Homo sapiens: one gene and its partner. The protein of the gene in region 2 purifies or fractionates together with the protein of the main gene of each other region. This does not show direct contact. Each region holds a gene or a part of one and is shown on either strand. Other genes may lie near its edges.

What was found. The genes of interacting proteins can lie anywhere in the genome.
Region 1: the proteins of SNRNP70 (region 2) and SNRPF purify together in Homo sapiens (affinity purification with mass spectrometry; 6 studies listed by BioGRID and IntAct, with this or other methods). This does not show direct contact.

The regions. Positions count from the first base shown.
Region 1 is NC_000012.12:95,864,296-95,867,558, forward strand, and holds the end of SNRPF (small nuclear ribonucleoprotein F), read left to right. Parts: intron 1-1,028; coding exon 1,029-1,093; intron 1,094-1,709; coding exon 1,710-1,776; 3' UTR 1,777-1,845; downstream 1,846-3,263. Other genes in the region: CCDC38 (coiled-coil domain-containing protein 38), read right to left, coding at 2,781-2,894. UniProt on the Homo sapiens protein: Plays a role in pre-mRNA splicing as a core component of the spliceosomal U1, U2, U4 and U5 small nuclear ribonucleoproteins (snRNPs), the building blocks of the spliceosome.
Region 2 is NC_000019.10:49,086,614-49,091,950, reverse strand, and holds part of SNRNP70 (U1 small nuclear ribonucleoprotein 70 kDa), read right to left. Parts: intron 1,661-5,337; coding exon 1,598-1,660; intron 1,486-1,597; coding exon 1,431-1,485; intron 1-1,430. UniProt on the Homo sapiens protein: Component of the spliceosomal U1 snRNP, which is essential for recognition of the pre-mRNA 5' splice-site and the subsequent assembly of the spliceosome. SNRNP70 binds to the loop I region of U1-snRNA.

The DNA.
Region 1 (3,263 bases), on a different chromosome or scaffold from region 2:
CCTCTCTCCCATCACTCCTTAGTTCCTTCTCTGAGTCCCAAGTGGCATTGATTGTGATTTTTCTTTTAATTACAAGTAGAGCTTGTTACCTATATGTAGAAGGAAAGCTAAACATTTTGATATAAAATTAGAAATAATTCACCAAAATAACTGTAGGTAAAGTAAGAAGAGCTCAGACATTCGATTCATAATAATACCATAAGGGAAACACACTACTTTGCTGTAGTTCACCAAAATAGCTGTAAAGGTCACTGTTAACTATTTACCTTTCTCTTAAGAACTTGTTTTTCCCTGTTTATTAGTACATAATTAAAAATTCTTATTCAGGCCCAGATGTGATAGCTTATGCCTGTAATCCCAGCACTTTGGGAGGCCAAGGCAGGAGGATCACTTGAAGGCAGAAATTCAAGACCAGCTTGGGCAATATAGCAAGATCTCATCTCTACAGAAAAAATTGTTTCGAAGTAGCCAGGCTTTGTGGCACATGCCTTTAGTCCTAGCTGCTCAGGAGATTGAGGCAGGAGGAGCCCAGGTGTTCAAGGTTTTGGTCAGCTATGATTGTGCCACTGCATTCCAGCCTGGGCAACAGAGGGAGACCCTGTTTCTTAAAAGACAGGAAAAGAAGAAAATTCTTACTCAATTATTTGCTTTGGTTGTTGACTAATATAAAAGTATTTGGCATGTTAGCCATAGCTTTCGTATACCTATTTGGACACCTCAATATGAGTTAGAGACTGCCTTCTTCCACACACTGTTTTAATATCTAATAGAAAGAAATATTACATAACCTGGGAGATTCAGAAACTTATGTTGAAACAAGCTTTGAATATTAATTTCGTTGAAGGTTTATATGAAACCAAAAGTACTACAATAGTAATAGAAAGCTCATCTTCTGTTTATTAATTATAGATAAATTTGAGTTGTTGGTATAGAAAGGTCTCAGTTAATGAGTTCTCTCACCAATATTAGCTGTATTGTAATATTTTCCTCCTGTGTGATTATACTAATATATTTCTTTTTATTGAAAGCTTGCAAATACAGAAGAATACATAGATGGAGCTTTGTCTGGACATCTGGGTGAAGTTTTAATAAGGTAACAAACAGCAGTAGTATATGTAAGGAGTTACTGGTGAGCATTAGGAATACCTGTTCTAAATATATTAGTGCCTCAATTTTGGAATTACTTTTTTTTAAAAAATCACTATTATAATACTTTACAGTTAGACTTCAGAAGTCTTTGAAATTGTTAAACTTGTCAAAGGTAAGTTTTCAAATGTTTTGGAACTGGCCAAAAGATTTTTCTAGTGTTGATGTTTAATTTTCTAGCTCTTAGCTATAATCTTTTGCAGTGGCAACCTTTTGCAGTGGCCTTTGTTGCGGGAACTTAGTTTTGAATTTTAGTTGGGTCTGGCTGTTTTGTTATATTGATTTTCTGTACTAGCTTCAAAGCTCCAAATTCTGGTAATTATTTCCTTTGGAAAATCATAAAGATGTCATTTTATAACAACCATATGGTGGAAAATAAGTGCCATGTGCTTTTCAACAAATCTATGTGAAACTTTTTTTTAAAATGAATATATTTAAAAAATTTTTTTAAAGACAAGAATATTATAAATATAGTATTCAGTATTTTCATAATAAAAATATAGTAATTCATATCATACATGGTTTCTGGTTGGAACAACAAAATCGACTTTTTCTATTTACAGGTGTAATAATGTCCTTTATATCAGAGGTGTGGAAGAAGAGGAAGAAGATGGGGAAATGAGAGAATAGCATCTTTTGTGGGGGATTTTTTTTATATATATTTCTAGACAATAAAGATTTGTTTGTTTTTCAACTTGACTTGTGAACTATTTGTATTCAGATATTTACAAGCAAAGCTGAAATGATGAACCAATTGGGAAAGATTACTCACTGAACTAATGCTTTAAAAGCCACTGAATTTCATTTAAGTTGCTTTTCTTTTGTAAGCCCAATATTCTTTTTTTTCCCATAAAGGATAATTATTTATATGCTTTAGATATTTTTATGAAGGTGAATTTCAGACCTTTTCTTGTAAAATTATCTATTAGCTGAGACCTTTTAAATGCAACTTTTTCTTTTAAAGTTATTTTTGAGCTACTTTTAACGTATAAAATTAAACATTTTCTTGGTATTAATAATATACTGTCTTATTTTACTTAGTAGTCAATAAATTACATGTTAATTCTGTGTCAATATAAGCTAAATGCACATATTGCAGCTAAAATTGAAGCATCTTCTAAAAATTAAAATGATTGTACAGACAGGGCACAACAGAAATTGGGAACTGACATTCAGGCTGAAGGCATACGGTTTGTTCACTGAAGAGAAAAAAGTTCTCTGAACAAAATGTAATGTCAAATAAAAACCAGTCTCCCCATTATGTTCTGAGACATAACCTCGAGGTTGAGTTTTAAGCCCCTCAAAACCCTTCAGGTATTTTAGGGTTGTACATTGTTAAAATGTATAGTCCATAGTAATAACAGTATGCTATGAACTTCCCTACAGATGGGTTGAGAAAATACATCATTTACATTCTCATGTTGTAAGAGAATGGCCATTATTACACTTCAGTGTTCATTTACCATAGTTTTATCAGTAAACTATCTTTGTGTATCCCCAAGTGGGACAACTCAAAGTATAGAAGAAAGTGTTTAGCTATATGGAATAATACTTATGATATGAATACTTAAAGACTTAAAATTTACAAAATACACCTAAGACATTCTGGTAATAAAATGTCTTACTGCTTTTATTCAAGTAAAAAAATATTCTTCCTCTTGTGATTTTGTTTTTGTTTCATTGACTAAAGGTAGCTGCTGTTTGTTACCAGATGGAGGTTTTGAATGAAAGACAAGTCGTCTTCCCAACTGAAACAAAAGAAAAACAAAATACTTAATATTTTTTGAGCATAGCCATTTTCTATTGAAATTTGTGAAATACCAATATTAACTTGATTTTTACAAGGAATAATATGGTTTGTAACATTAACTAATCACAGTTAAAAGGGACTTATAACCTAACGGATGTCTAACATGCTAGGCAAAGTTGAGTAGCAAACTGGACACCAATAACTATGCAGAAGGAACAGCAGTTAGGTTTTATTGGGAAGTGGGAAAACTTAGGTAAAGTCATCAAATAGTATATGGTTCAAATGTGGTCAGCCTAGAAAAGCACCATGTTGAAGGCCACCATTTTATTTCTCAGTAAGTGCCATAGCCAGTTTTTCGTCCATGGTT
Region 2 (5,337 bases):
TTAGAAAAGGTGTTAGAAACAAACTGCATGGCAAAAAATGAGGTCATGACCGGCACAGCTGAATGTCTATGTCCCAGAGAAAACACCCAAAGGAAACCAGGTTGGTGGCGAGGGAAAACCCCTGTGGTTTGGACACTGAGTCTGAGATGCCTCTGAGGCAGGACATCAAGACAGCGTTCCGACAGCCAATGTCCAAAGAGTGCACCGCCAGATGTCTCTGTCACGCTTCTGCGTAAGCACCGTGAGGAAATCCTGCACTCCAGGATTTGGAGGAAAGGGATTCATCAAAGTTCACAGGTATAGGAGGAAAACCTGTCTTCTCACTAGAGTCATGTTCTGAGAAGTGCGTCGTTTGATGATGATGTCGATATGCCAACATGAGATGGCACTTCCACGAGCCTAGACAGCATACCTAACACTCCTGGGCTAGAGGGTGCGTCCCACTGCTCCGAGGCCAAGCGTGTTACTACACCAAATACTACAGCAATCCTAACACAATAGTAAGTATTTGTGCATCTAAACGTTATCAAAGCATAGAAAGGGTACAGTAAATAGACGGTATAATCTTTTTTTTTTTTAAGACAGATTTTTGCTTGTTGCCCAGGCTGGGTTGCAGTGAGCCGACGCGATCCCGGCTCACTGCAACCTCCGCCTTCTGGGTTCAGGAGATTCTCCTGCCTCAGTCTCCCGAGTAGCTGGGATTACAGACGCTCGCCACCACGCCCAGCTAATTTTTGTACTTTTAGTAGAGACAGGATTTCACCACGCTGGCCAGGCTGGTCTCGAACTCCTGACCTCATGATCCGCCTGCCTCGGCCTCCCAAAGTACTGGGATTACAGCGTGAGCCACAGTGCCTGGCAAAATATGATATAATCTTATAGGATCACCATCACATCCACGGTCCCCTGCTGAGTGAAACACTGCTATGCTGCCTGTGACTGTACAGTTTTCACTTTCAGAATAAAGAGCCACTGGAGGTTGACATCTGACCCTCTTATGAGTTTGGTTAATGGCAACAACACACCTGTCTTGTACTCCAATTCCTCCTCTATGTGGAGGGGATGGAACATCCTCAGCCCAAGGGTTGGGGACCTAAGGTTAGAGCCAGGACAGACCACTATCCCACAACCCACCACTTCAGCCTGTGACACCCAGCTGGGTTGTGGGAGCCCCTTAACTGTCCTCCCATGCAGGAGGAGCCCAAGGTACCAGGGGTCTCCCTTCCTGCCAACTTTTACCCTATGTTCTGCTGCTGAAAAGCCTAAACCAAAAACAGTGCTTGTGAAGTGGCAGGGGCTAAACAAATGAACTAACAACCCTGTTCCCCACAACACAGGCCTTAGGGAGACAGCAGGGTCCTGGGTATGACCTGGGAAGAATACAGAGGGTTTGGGAGAGGAGAGAGCCAAATGGTGGATGAGAGACTTACACATTTTAAGCTCTGTCTCCACTTCTTGCTGTCGCCGCTCAATCTTTTCCCGTCTCTGTCAGGAGAAAGGGGAGGTGGAGAAGTGAATGCAGATAGAAGTGCCCTAGTGTCAAGGATCATCTGGAGACAGTGGTAAAACAGGGGGTCAGGAAGCAAAAATGACATACTTTCCTCTCCATGCGCTCCTCTCGGGTTTCAGCACGAGTTGGAGGAGGGGCATCTCGAGGGTCCTGGGAACAAGAAGAGAGGTGACAGGGTGGGAAGGACTGGGGGAAATGGCAAGGGACACTCACCAAGGAAATAAACAGGTTAACCCTCCCACCCCCACCCCCTACAAAAATAAACATCCACGCACACTTCCCCTGACACAGTGGAGGGAGGGGAGTGGCACAGATCAAAGCAAGGTCTGCAGCCACGCACAGTGGCTTCCACTTGTAATCGCAGCACTTTGGGATGATGACACAGGGAGAATGCTTGAGCCTAGGGGTTTCAGACCAGCCTGGGACAACACAGTGAAACACCATCTCCACAAAAAATTTAAAAATTAGCCAGGTGTAAAGGCCGGGTGCAGTGCACACGCCTGTAATCCCAGCACTTTGGGAGGCCGAGGCAGGCGGATCATGAGGTCAGGAGATCCGAGACCATCCTGACTAACATGGTGAAACCCCACCTCTACTAAAAATACAAAAAATTAGCCGGGCGTGGTGGTGGGCGCCTGTAGTCCCAGCTACTCGGGAGGCTGAGGCAGGAGAATGGCATGAACCCAGGAGGCGGAGGTTGCAGTGAGCCGAGATCGCACCACTGCACTCCAGCCTGCACAACAGAGCAAGATTCCGTCTCAAAAAAAAAAAAAAAAAAAAAAAATCCTGTCTCAAAAACTAAGCATGGTCCATGGACCAGTACTATCTAAACTGTTGCTGGACTGTGATAAGTACAGAAACCAGGACTAAGTGTTCAGGAACTTCTACAGTAATTTCACAATTTGATGTCCACTGACTCTTAATACAAATTTGGTCTTTTATTCTGTAGGTCTTTTTTTTTTCTGAGACGAAGTTGTGGTCTGTTGCCCAGGCTGGTGTGCAATGGCGCGATCTGGGCTCACTGCAACCTCCGCTTCCCAGGTTCAAGCGATTCTAAGCCCTGCTTTCCCCCCTGTGCCCGTCTCTCTAAAAGGAACCCAGCAACTGACTAGAATCGTTCAAGCGGTTCTCCTGCCTAAGCCTCCTGAGTGAGTACCTGGGATTACAGGCACACGACAGCATGTTGGCTAGTTTTTGCATTTTTAGTAGAGACAGGGTTTCACCATGTTGGCCTGGCTGGTCTTGAACTCCTGACTGTAGATCTTTCTTTAAAAAGTAATTCTATCATATTTATCAAAAGCAAACAGATTGGAAACAGTATCTGTCCTTCACCAAAGACAGTTTGAAAAGCACTGGTACAGGTGACATCTAGCTTTATAGTATTTAGGAAACACCCTGTCTTCCATATTTAGGAAAGACATTGCTTCTCACAGCTCCAAGTATCACTCACATTGAACAAAGTGCCAGAGGATGTGATGGGAGTGGAGTGATGGCAGGGCCCTGCTTATGAGTGCCAGTGAGGATGACCAGGCCTAAAGCAACATAAGCTGACAGAACAGGGCTCCAAAGCCCACAACTGCACACCCTCTGAGGGCCAAGGCAGCTCTTAAAGGTCTCATCAACCACACATTAAATAGGAACTGGCTGGTAGGGTGCAGTGGCTCATGCCTGTAATCCCAGCACTTTGGGAGGCCAAGGCAGACAGATCACAAGGTCAGGAGTTTGAGACCATCCTGACCAACATGGTGAAACCCCGTCTTTACAAAAAATACAAAAATTAGCCAGGCATGGTAGCGCGTGCCTGTAATCCCAGCTACTCAGGAGGCTGAGGCAGGAGAATCCTTTGAACCCGGGAGGTGGAAGTTGCAGTGAGCCTAGATCACGCCACTGCACTCCAGCCTGGGCAACAGAGCGATACTCCATCTCAAAAAAAAAAAAAAAAGGTCGGGTGCGGTGGCTCACGTCTGTAATCCCAGCACTTTGGAAGGCCAAAGTGGGCAGATCACAAGGTCAGGAGATCAAGACCATCCTGGCTAACACGGTGAAACCCCATCTCTAAAAATACAAAAAATTAGCCAGGCGTGGTGGCGGGCACCTGTAGTCCCAGCTACTCGGGAGGCTGAGGCAGGAGAATGGCATGAACCCGGGAGGCGGAGCTTGCAGTGAGCCGAGATCACGCCACTGCACTCCAGCCTAGGCAACAGAGCGAGACTCCAAGTCAAAAAAAAAAAAAAAAAAAAAGTACCTGGCTCCCAGGCATGGTGGCTCACACCTGTAATCCCAGCACTCTGGGAGGCCAAGGGGGGTGGATCACCTGAGGTTAGGGGTTCGAAACCAGCCTGGCCTACATGGTGAAACCCCATCTCTACTAAAAATACAAAATTAGCCAGGCGTGGTGGTGCATGCCTGTAATCCCAGCTACTTGAGAGGCTGAGGCAGGAGAACTGCTTGAACCGGAGGCTGCAGTTGGCTAAAATCACGCCACTGCACTCCAGCCTGGGCAACAGAGCAAAACTGTCTCATAAATAAATAAATGGTAACTGGCACATGACCTGCATCATCAAAGGGCACCTACCACCCGCCTGTGCCCATTAAGTTAATTGGCCAGTAATATCTCTCAAGTGCGGGTTCACCAAGGGTGGCAAATCCCACTGAAGACATACCTTTCTGTTATCTACGAAATTCTGCTCTGCAACTCCCTCGCCTCCAGCTGCCCTTACCTACCCAATGCTAGAACGTTCTTCTTGTAACTTCCGACTGTGTGCCAGCTTTTCTCAGGTGTGCTCTGATGCACCTAAGAGATGACCCTTGTCATCCCATTTCACAAATAAAAACACAGAGGTCCAGGAGCCTAAGTCATTCATTCCTATTTATCCCAAAGGTGCAGAGCTAAGATCCCCATCTGCAGTTTTAAGCCCTCCAATACTCAATACTGGGTGCTAAGCCTTTATGAACATCATCTTATTAACAATAAAAGTAGTAAACAGAGTAACAAAGGCTGACATGTGCTGACTGCTTGGTGCCAAGCCCCCTGACATACAGTTTGCCATTTAATTCTCCACCAACATTATAAGGGTGCTACCACTATCCCCTTGCTAAAGATAAAGAAACCAATGCATTAAGAGGATACAACATTTGCCCAAAGTCAGAGCTGATAAATGGTGTGGGTTAGGCATGAATCCTCAACCACTACTCACTGAATTTTCACAAAAATTCTACAAAAGGTGTACTATCAACCCCACTTTTTTTTTTTTTTTTTTTTTGAGACAGTCTTGTTCTGTTGCTCAGGATGGAGTGCAGTGGCGCGATCTCGGCTCATTGCAACCTCCGCCTCCTGGGTTCAAGTGATTCCCGTGCCTCAGCCTCCCAAGTAGCTGGAATTACAGGCACCATGTCCGGCTAATTTTTGTTATTTTTAGCAGAGACGTGGTTTCACCATGTTGGCCAGGCTGGTCTTCAACTCCTCACCTCAAGTGATCCGCCTGCCTCGGTCTCCCAAAGTACTGGGATTACAGGCGTGAGCCACCGTACCGGGCCACAACCCCACTTAAAAAAAAAATTTTTTTTTTGAGAGACGAAGTCCTGCTCTGTCACCCAGGCCGGAGTATAGTGGCACAATCACAAAGCACTCCAGCCTCCGACTCCTGGGCTCAAGCAATCCTCCCACCTCAGCCTCCTGAGTAGCTGAGACTACAGACGCACTCGACCACACCCGACACCCGGCTCCAACCCCATTTAAAACAGAGAAACTGAGGATCACAAAGGTTAAGCCCCTCGCTTAAATCACGCAGCTGGCAAAATGGCCAGAAGCTGGACTCGCAAATCCA